Linked DNA regions of Homo sapiens. The protein of the gene in region 1 interacts with the protein of each later gene in a biochemical or structural test. Each region holds a gene or a part of one and is shown in the gene's direction. Other genes may lie near its edges.

What was found.
Region 2: the proteins of MAP2K4 (region 1) and ITCH form a complex in vitro, tested with the Homo sapiens proteins (one study listed by BioGRID).
Region 3: of the proteins of MAP2K4 (region 1) and LRRK2, one has a biochemical effect on the other in vitro, tested with the Homo sapiens proteins (one study listed by BioGRID).

The regions. Positions count from the first base shown.
Region 1 is NC_000017.11:12,111,350-12,115,007, forward strand, and holds part of MAP2K4 (dual specificity mitogen-activated protein kinase kinase 4), read left to right. Parts: intron 1-1,883; coding exon 1,884-2,011; intron 2,012-3,658. UniProt on the Homo sapiens protein: Dual specificity protein kinase which acts as an essential component of the MAP kinase signal transduction pathway. Essential component of the stress-activated protein kinase/c-Jun N-terminal kinase (SAP/JNK) signaling pathway.
Region 2 is NC_000020.11:34,478,121-34,481,778, forward strand, and holds part of ITCH (E3 ubiquitin-protein ligase Itchy homolog), read left to right. Parts: intron 1-1,509; coding exon 1,510-1,669; intron 1,670-2,478; coding exon 2,479-2,612; intron 2,613-2,945; coding exon 2,946-3,086; intron 3,087-3,658. UniProt on the Homo sapiens protein: Acts as an Acts as an E3 ubiquitin-protein ligase which accepts ubiquitin from an E2 ubiquitin-conjugating enzyme in the form of a thioester and then directly transfers the ubiquitin to targeted substrates.
Region 3 is NC_000012.12:40,304,950-40,308,607, forward strand, and holds part of LRRK2 (leucine-rich repeat serine/threonine-protein kinase 2), read left to right. Parts: intron 1-835; coding exon 836-1,017; intron 1,018-3,517; coding exon 3,518-3,658. UniProt on the Homo sapiens protein: Serine/threonine-protein kinase which phosphorylates a broad range of proteins involved in multiple processes such as neuronal plasticity, innate immunity, autophagy, and vesicle trafficking.

The DNA.
Region 1 (3,658 bases):
TATTTAATTTTGTTTGGCTTAATGCTTGTTAGAAATAATATCTTTTTTTCTTTTGGCCTAAAATTATGTAGAGTTAGGTCCCTAAACAAAATTCTTTGTTTCTCTTGTATTTCTTCTTGTTCTTGTCTTGATTTTTTTTTTTTTCCCTTCTTTGTTAGCTGTGTTCTATAATTATGAGAGTAGCACCTTTGAGGCATTTGATAGTTACCTTAGGGATATTTACTGATCACAGTAAAGCACCAAGGTACTGCCTGGGGAGTAGTTGAATAAAATAAAAAAACTTCAGAAGTAACTTTTATTGTTCTCTTACTAAATGAAGTGATGAGTTTATAGCCATCTTTTATCAGTTAGGATCAGTTAGCTTTTTTGTTGGAGTCAGTGCTTTTGATTACAAGTAATAGAAAATCCTGATAACTCTCTTTAAACTTCAGGGAAATTCATTATCTGTCATAATTAGTCCAAAGATGGGGTGGCTCAAAGCACAATATGCTCCTCTTCCTTCTGTCCTCCTTCATGTGTTAACTCTGTCCTCAGGGTAGTAACAACTAGAGCAGTTCCCACTATCATGTCTATATGTGGCTGCCTCGTGAAGAAGAGGTGCTCTCGTGCTGTGCAGCTCTGTAGGGAGTATGGAAACTTTTCCCACGTCTCTAATACCTTTTCTTGGCTCATTCACCAGAAGTGCCTCATGCCCTTAAACCAGCTACTATCAAGAAGCATGAGACTACCCTTATAAAACTTATACCAGCCAACAGCCAGGTTTTCGAGGTGTGGATGTTGATGAGAAGAGATACTTCAATAAAACACAGGTTCTGTTAGAAAGTATGGATGGGGCTGGGTGTGGTGGCTGACACCTGTAATCCCAGCACTTTGGAGACCAAGGCAGCTGGATCACTTGAGGTCAGAAGTTCGAGACCAGCCTAGCCAACATGGTGAAACCCCATCTCTACTAAAAATACAAAAATTAGCCAGGTGTGGTGGCGCATGCCTGTAATCCCAGCTACTTGGGAGGCTGAAGCAGAAGAATCGATTGAACTTGGGAGGCGGAGGTTGCAGTGAGTGGGGATTGCACCACTGCATTCCAGCCTGGGTAAAAAAGAGCGAGACTCTTGTCTCAAAAAAAAAAAAAAAAAAAAGCATGGATGGTTAGGAATGGATGTTTGATAGGCCCACAGCTGTTTCGGTCATGGTAAGAGATCTTTACTGAATTTTTTTGTGGATCACCTTCTGAGTTACATTTAGATGTTTTCTGCATCCTATATTTTAAAACCTTATTTTTTATTCATTGAGCCAGGATAGTGACAAGGACATGGATAAAAGGACTGAGCTATGGATAGAGAATTAGTTGGCACATACTGGTAGTGACTTGATTGTCAATGAGAAAGGGATTTGACATTCCTTATATTTTGACTGTTATGTAATGAATCTGGACTAAGTAAATGAATTTGTAAGCCTCTTGAAAACAATTTAATGCCTAAATTTCTTGTGAAAATTTTTTTTGATATTCAGTTTTTAAGCACTGGCATTCAGAAAATTGTTTTCCTTTCTCATTTTCAATAGAAGAAAACCATTGTTTTTTCTGTGTTTTATAAATATGAAGATGTTAAGAGAAAAATCAATCCCCATCTATATCTTACAGATTAATGTTTGTGAAATGACTTTTGCTGTTACATTTACACAATTATAGTTATTAAAGCTACATGTTTAAAACATGAATAATTATTGTATGTGATAAATGAAGATGTTTTACTTCTTATATATCTGAATTTAAGGACTTGACCACTTATGTTGTCTAAGGTTTTTCAATATTTTTGCTTAAAGTGAAGCCTTATGTAACTTAGGAAGAAGCTAATTGTATACTGAATGATATCTATGTCTTGCAGATATCAAACCTTCCAATATTCTTCTGGACAGAAGTGGAAATATTAAGCTCTGTGACTTCGGCATCAGTGGACAGCTTGTGGACTCTATTGCCAAGACAAGAGATGCTGGCTGTAGGCCATACATGGCAGTAAGTGTTAAGTCCAGGCCTTCTTGCTTGATAGTCATTGCACAGAGAGCCTGTGCTCTTTTGTGCTGGCCATTAGTCATACGGTTTTACCATGAAACTGCTAGAATATTTCCCTTACCCTAAGGCCCAAGCTCAGGTCCTAGCCTCTCCATGAAACTTTGCTAAATTATCCCAGTCAGCTCCTGTTTTCATTGTCTTGCTTTATTTCTCTTACTTGGTATTTAGCAGTTGTGGTCTTCTCTGATTATTGTTTTTTCATTATATTGAACTCAACTCATTAAACAGATGGTAACTTCTCAGAAAGTTCCCACCGTCCCTTAGTGAGACAAATGGGAAGCCTTGAGTTCATTAGCAGAATTCACTATGTATTACAGAGTCTGAAGCTGCATATTTTGAATATTGTTAGTCCTTTTTTTTAGGGGTAGATGAAGCACACCAACAAATGCAAAGGTAGAGGCCTTCAGTATTTTGCAACCTGGAGCCTCTTTTCCTGCAAAGAGACAGATGTACACTATCCATCCATAGATATCAAACTCATCTTACCCCAGTATATTTGCATACAGTGTTCCTACAGCCTGGATTTTGATCTGTATTTGAATGAAAATGTAGTGTCTGTATTTCAGACATTTCCCTAGGTGTTAATGTCTTTCTTCAATGTTGCCATGGTTCTTTGGGGACCAGCACACTACTAAATGTGACACATAAGGTTTTGTGGTTGTTTCTTGAGGCCTCCCTGCCAGCAGCATTTCTTTCCATCTTTGTAGACTGTTTTAAACTAAAGATAAGCTTAGAATTGAATAAAATTGTTCTTTCTTGGTTTCCTCCTTGATATATATGTTTTCAAACCTAGTGCTATAAATAATAAAAAAGTAAGAGTCACAGGCTAGATATTATAGGTGTTCTAGATTATTTATGAATGGATAGGCTTAGTGCTACTACAAATTCAACTTACTGCATTTTTCAATCCTCTTTTGGTTTTGTTATATCTTCCCATATCACTTTTTCTTCAGATGAACATGTAAAAGCGGTGTGTGTGTGTGTGTGTGTGTGTGTGTGTAGACACCTAACCTGTGTGGTAAGACCTTTTAAACTTTTGGTTTTGTGGATGTTGACTGGCTGGGCAGATTTCTTGACTCAGTTTGGAAGATCATTTGTTTATCGTGATAACTAGGGATAAATGGCACAATAGTTTCAAAGGCAAGAAATAAAAAAAATTAGACATGGAGTATTTGGGAAATGTGATTTACATATTTATTAAGGATACCCCGAGAATGAACTGAAATTGTTATTTACAGTTTTAGGGCTTGTCTCGATACTAACAGTGACTAAATGTTTTTGTTGTGTGACACTGACTAAGAATTATATTTGATTGAAGCAGGCTTTGAAAATGCAATTGCAGCCCAGATAAAGTAGAATATTTTGAATTCAGCTTTCTAAGAAAGACTCAGACTTTCTTTAAAACAGACTTTCGTCATTCTTGTGCAGAGATATGCTTTGCAGGCCCAGGAGATGTAAGACTTCTGTTTTCTTGCTGACCTTCATCTGTGGAACACAAAGGCTGATAAACTCTTGGCCTCTAATCTTTACTGGACCAGATGAAATTCTTCTGTCCATTCTCATCTTTCAAAGCCTGTTATAGATAGACAA
Region 2 (3,658 bases), on another chromosome or scaffold:
TGATGAAGAGGCTTAGAGACTCACCTAAGGCACATAATAAATTGTAGAGCCTGGATGCAAGCTTTGTATCATTTAACCAGTAGCCAGTGTTAAGTCTACCACCTCTTATATCTGTTCCACAGAAAACACAAGGCCTTATAGTGATCAGGTCATTTTCCCCACCACAGATTACTGATACAGGTAATAGTTACTCAGTTTCCAACTGAGATTAGTATATTTGTCATGAAAATATAGAAGGTTGTACAAAATAGGAGTTGAAAGTCTTAATTCTGCTTTCTTCATATTGGAGCTTAATATTGGACCCTAGAAGATAGTCTCTAATGAGAATTGCTTTGCTTATTCCATGATAATATATCACACCAGGTTAAAAATTTGCGTAGAGCTGGCATTGTGCAAAGACAAGGACTTTGGGGTCAAGACGGGATTTGAATCTTTTTCTGCTCTCAATAGTGTGATGTTGGGCAAATATTTTCATCTGTAAAATAAGAATATTAATATCTACATTTCTAGGATTATTGTGAAGAGTAGAAATATTGTTTATTAATGACCTAGTTCAGAGCCTGTGTCTTTGTGTGCACGCTAATTGGTGGCTACATTTTAGTAGTTCTTATTTATATTATGTTTCTGAGTTTAAATAAAATTATTTCAAAATATATGATATAATCATAGATAAATAACAAATATGAGTAGAAACATGTAATTTTGTATAAGTTAAAGGCAATTGAAGAGGAGAGCAATCATTCATTCCTAATAAGAAAATAAACTAGCAATATTAAAGTGTGTCATGAGATACACTTATCACAAGAGGCCATGAACTAACAGGAAAAGAGATCCAGATTACAGGCTTATGCCACATGTATTACCCCAGATCACCCATGTTACGTAGTTTTAGTAACCATAATCTTATGTTAATATTGGTTCATATTTTCACAATATTTGACTTAGAGTCTCAGCATTTTTCTAATATGTGAGTGGCTGGAATTAAGAACTTTACTGCCTCTGTGAAATTGGAAGAATTTTCATATTGATTTAACGTGTAGGGAGTAGTGGCACTTGATGGGGATTATTATGGGACTTAGTAATAGATGGAATATTAGATTGATTTCAGCCACTTTACTCACATGGGTAAATAGTGAATTTTAAATTTGCCTATGAATAGTATTTCATTGATTCTAAGACTAATATTTTCATTTTATAATATCTCTGAAATTACGATGTATCTCAGGTAAAATTGGAAAATACAATTTAGTCGTTCATCAAATAAAGGTGCAATGTTGTCTTAGATTTTTTGAAATGTAATAATGTATATATTACCATCTACCAAAGATGGTGTATACTACCAACTCTGTGAAACAGATGTGAGTTTGAACAGAAGCAATAAAAATCAACATGAGATTAGAAAACTATCACTAGCTGAGGGGTATAGATCCCTGAGAACTTTATAGCACTGTTCTTTGATTTCTTGGTAACCTACAAGATTTTTCATCGTAAATTTTCTTTTGATTTCAGAGAATGGTTCTTTCTTTTGTCACATGAAGTGTTGAACCCAATGTATTGCCTGTTTGAATATGCAGGGAAGGATAACTACTGCTTGCAGATAAACCCCGCTTCTTACATCAATCCAGATCACCTGAAATATTTTCGTTTTATTGGCAGATTTATTGCCATGGTAAGTGCAGGTCAAGAATTATGTTTACTTTGCTTATTCAGCAATACTAAATTTTCTCTTAGGTGCCATAACAGATCATATGAGAGAAAGGGAAGTGGTTTTTTGTTTTGTTTTGTTTTTTATTTTTGAGACAGAGTCTTGCTCTGTCACCCAGGCTGGAGTACAGTGACACGATCTTGGCTCACTGCAACCTCTGCTTCCTGGACTCAGTCAGTTCTCCCGCCTCAGCCTCCCAAGTAGCTAGGATTACAGGTGTGCGCCACCATGCCTGGCTAATTTTTGTATTTTTAGTAGAGAAGGGGTTTTGCTATGTTGGCCAGGCTGGTCTTGAACTCCTGACCTCAGGTAATCCACCTGCCTCAGCCTTCCAAAGTGCTGGGATTACAGGTATAAGTCACCGTGCCCAGCCAGGGAAGTGTTTTTTTGAGACAAAGTTTCACTTTTGTTGCCCAGGCTAGAGTGCAATGGCGTGATCTCGGCCCACCACAACCTCTGCCTCCCAGGTTCGAGCAATTCTCCTGCCTCAGCCTCCCGAGTAGCTGGGATTACAAACAAGCATGTGCCACCATGTCCGGCTAATTTTTGTGTTTTTAGTAGAGATGGGGTTTCTCCATGTTGGTCAGTCTGGTCTCGAACTCCTGACCTCAGGTGATCCACCCACCTCGGCCTCCCAGATTGCTGGGATTACAGGCGTGAGCCACCATGCCTGACCCAGGGAAGTGTTTTTAAATGAAGAGTACATCTAATATATTGAAATAAAATGATTATTGTACAGTTATTTTAAGCGGTCTTGTTTCCTTTTTTCATAGGCTCTGTTCCATGGGAAATTCATAGACACGGGTTTTTCTTTACCATTCTATAAGCGTATCTTGAACAAACCAGTTGGACTCAAGGATTTAGAATCTATTGATCCAGAATTTTACAATTCTCTCATCTGGGTTAAGTAAGTTTCTTTTTCCATGTAATTTATTAAAATATAGTTATATGCATTCCGTGTAGTATTGATAACTTATCCAAACTGTAGGCACATAATTGGTTTATTGTATTTAAATGATCTATATATCAAACCTGTCTTTTTATTCAATATGATAAATTTTACAAAAATACACCCAAGATCTTCGGCAATAATATGACCTTAGAACAGAATCTTATTTCTTCTTATTTTGATGTTATAGCTTAATATTAATTATTTAAGAACATGGGCCTTTCGTTAAAAACTTATAAATTATGATTGAATTGGTGGATATAACAAATAGTGCTAATTTCATTTGTGCAGGGAAAACAATATTGAGGAATGTGATTTGGAAATGTACTTCTCCGTTGACAAAGAAATTCTAGGTGAAATTAAGAGTCATGATCTGAAACCTAATGGTGGCAATATTCTTGTAACAGAAGAAAATAAAGAGGAATACATCAGGTGAGAGTGCTCCTTTTCACATTTCACTTTTTGTTTGACTACAGCACATTGATAATTGCTTACTAATACTAATGGAGAGTATCTCCAAAAATAGTATTTGTCTCTGTACTAATCAATATCCTATGTAGGCAGTCATTTTTCATTTCTAAAAAGTTTTTTTTTAAGTGTTTTTAAAAGAGTTTTAAGGATAAAAGTCATGCAGGATCACTCTTTTAAACATCAACTCTGTAATCACTATGCTGTATAACATGTCATTAAAAAGAATCTCAAATATATATGCAGATATTTTCATGGGGAATATTGTAAGGTGTATTAATCCACTTTCCTGCTGCTGATAAAGACATATCCAAGACTGGGCAATTTATAAAAAAAAGAGGTTTAATGGACTTACAGTTCCACGAGGGTGGGGAGGCCTCACCCTCATGGTGGAAGGCAAGGAGGGGCAAGTCACATCTTACATGGATGGCAGCAGGCAAAGAGAGAGCTTGTACAGGGAAAACTCCTGTTTTTAAAACCTCATCATCGGCCAGGCATGGTGGCTCATGCCTGTAATCCTAGCACTTTGGAAGGCC
Region 3 (3,658 bases), on another chromosome or scaffold:
CAGACTCTTAAATAAACCATTTTTCTCAAGTTGTTACTGGCCTGTATACTGTATTACTTGTTTTTCAGCTTTCCTTGGTACATTCTTAAATTTCTGCATTCCGCCACCATGCTATCACCCTAATGGATCAACCTTTTTTGTTTTGCTCCATTCTCTCTGTTGTAAATCTGAAATTGATAATTTGTTTGTCTCAGAAAATATTATTTTTCAAGTTCTAGCGTATTGCCTACAAAAACCAAAAGAATTAAGTGTCTGACACTGTGAGGTTCAGCAAAACTGTGCATATATTTTGCTACCTGATTTTTTGCCAGCAAATGAGTGTTTTCTATTATAAATATAGTATATATTGCTTAAAAATTTGGAACAGAAAAGAAATTACTCCAATTAGGATGCCACCTAAAGTATAAGCATGTAGCTGTACTTTGAGAACACTAAATTGCATGCAGGTTTGTAGTGACTAGGTCTTCTTGCCTTTACTGAAGGAGCAGAATGAAGTCACAGATAATGGATAACCAAATCCATTTTGTGGTAAGAACTTCCTTACTTTCAATGTCTTGAAGAGATGAAGTATGTTACCAAAGGAGATTGGGTTTTTTAATATTACAGATGAGTGACATAGATTGTTTGGGAGTAAGTTTTTATATGTAAGTTTTTATGTTTTTAAACACATACTGACAACTTATGACAAACCTTTGGAAAGTTTTAAAACTCTGTTGAAAGGTTGTGCAAGCTGCTGATGGAATCTGTGAGCCTTTCTTGTTTCTTATCACGTTTTTTGGCAGAGCACATTTCTTCCTTCCCACCAACAGGTTTTGCCCTTTTTTTTCCCATTAAGATTCCTCCTGAGATTGGCTGTCTTGAAAATCTGACATCTCTGGATGTCAGTTACAACTTGGAACTAAGATCCTTTCCCAATGAAATGGGGAAATTAAGCAAAATATGGGATCTTCCTTTGGATGAACTGCATCTTAACTTTGATTTTAAACATATAGGATGTAAAGCCAAAGACATCATAAGGTTAGATAATTTTTTTCTATTTGGTTTTACTAAATTTATTTCAGATTTTCTACTCTCTGTGACTTTGATGGACATATATTGTTACTATTTAGGGAAAAATAAATAGTAATATTTGGCATTAATATGCTGTGTGTCATTTGCCTTTCATTTAATGAATGTGTTTCTGTGGTGCCACTGTAGAGATTTCTCATTCTTCTTAGCCAGACTAATGTTGAGAGCGGCTTCTCCTCCTTCTGTTTCTTTTCAGTGGAGTAGACTCTAAAAGAAAATAAGTATTGCTATTTGGTCTCTGGTTACCAATTACACAATCTAAAGAAATACAGCACAGTATAATAACTTCTCACACTGTATTTCATATAGCAACTAGTTAACATATGCCTCTTACATCTTAAAGCATTATAGCTACTGACATCATGTGAAATTACTAACTTCTATTTTGCCCATTAGGATGAGTAATCTACTCACCTTGATCAGTTTTGAAAGCACCAAAACTTCTCAAGTATCACTGTTTCTGGTCTTTACACTTTAAGCACTTTAAATATCTTTGGTAATGGATTTTATCCTCCTTTTTGTTCCCTTTCAGCACATCGGTCTTATTACTTTCTCATAAAATCCTTTGCTCCCTTTTCCACAGTTACTGTATTAACGTTGCAGACCTCAGCTCTGTCATCACCTCTCAACTTGACTGTAATATCCACCAAGGCAGAGACCATGGCTGTGTTCACTCACTATTCAAATCTTGGCACCCAACACAGTGCCTGGCATACAATTAATAGTTGTTTAATTACCAGTGATTTATACTTACTCATTCTCTTCTGCCTAAAATCTCTTAAATTTATATTTAACTTCATCTGTTTTTATGAGGAAGGATTTTGTTTTCTGAACTCCTGAGCTTGATTTCATTTTAAAGGAGTTTGTTATCTTTTGTGCTAATTGTGGCTACCCTTCATCCTACCCAATTATTTTTCTCTCTTGAAACTGGAAAAGATGGTCATATAAAAATTGGTTCAGTTCTTACTAAACATTTAGTAGAACTAGCTTTCAGTGTATTATACTGTATTATCTAACTAAATATTTTTAATATTTAATATTTAATTTAATATATAACTAAATATTTTTAAACATGTTTAACATTTTCAGAAAAGACAGAAAGACCTAGAGCAGATTAGAAATTGTAGGCATCATTTGCTTTTTGAAGAAAGACATTTTTTCAAATAGTGGTGCATTCTTAAGAAATAAATCAAGAAAGGTAATGTTGCTTTTTGGTCATATCATCAGGAATGTTGGTCAGATTCTTATTAGTTACAGGAATGAATTGATCACTACTCTGATGTAAAATTCACTTATGATTTAGTCTTTTTCTCTAATTTGAAACTGTGGCAACATTTTAACATATTTCAAAATATATCTTTCTCTATCCATTATATTTTTGATAACACTTTGACTCTACTATTAGTTTAAAGGTGGTTTTTTAGCTACCTAAACACTTCTATTTCATTCAGGTTTTACATTAAGATCATTAGGAATGAAAGCTAACATCTGCTGATAGTATAATAGTTTATATTTATTTATGATGTTATGTGATCTCACTATCCATATATACTATTATATGCATATGTGATATACATGAATATATAGCTATACATCATATATACCATATATGAATATATACACACACATATATAATGTAACTAATATGACCCTATTATCAAGCTTTAACAGTATACATATATCTCTACCTTGTTTCTATGTCATATGGACTTTGTGAAATTTTGAACTTTATAATTTATAGGGTTTTTCTTTTCTTTTCTTTTCTTTTTTTTTTTTTTTTTGAGACTGAGTTTCACTCTTGTCACCCAGGCTGGAGTGCAGTGGCCTGATCTTGGCTCACTGCAACCTCTGCCTCTTGGCTTCAGGCGATTCTCCTGCCTCAACCTCCCAAGTAGCTGGAATTACAGGCACCTGCCACTGTTCCCGGCTACTTTTTGGATTTTTAATAGAGACGGGGTTTCACTATATTGGCCAGGCTGGTCTCAAACTCCTGACCTCATGATCCGCCCACCTCGGCCTCCCAAAATGCAGGGATTACAGGTGCGAGCCACCGCACCTGGCGTATAATTTGTAGGGTTTTTCATACTATTTAAAGACATTAGAATATGTATACATGTATGTATATGTGTGTATATATAGAGGTATATATATATTGCATATCGTATTCTAATTAGTATTGCAAACATATTTTGGCCTTTTGATTATTTCTGGTGATAGTGTAACATGTTTTCTTTGGTGATTTTACCAAACATTATCAACTACCCTAAAATCTCTAGCAAAATATATGCATTAACAGTACTCTGAAAGACATGTACATTATTAGTTATATGAGATATGCACTCTTCTGGATACTATATTTTAGAATAGTGTGACATGTAAAAGAACTCACCTAAATCTCAAGTATACTTTTAAGCAGTTTATTATTTTATTTTTATCTTTCAAATACTAGGTTTCTTCAACAGCGATTAAAAAAGGCTGTGCCTTATAACCGAATGAAACTTATGATTGTGGGAAATACTGGGAGTGGTAAAACCACCTTATTGCAGCAATTAATGAAAACCAAGAAATCAGATCTTGGAATGCAAAGTGC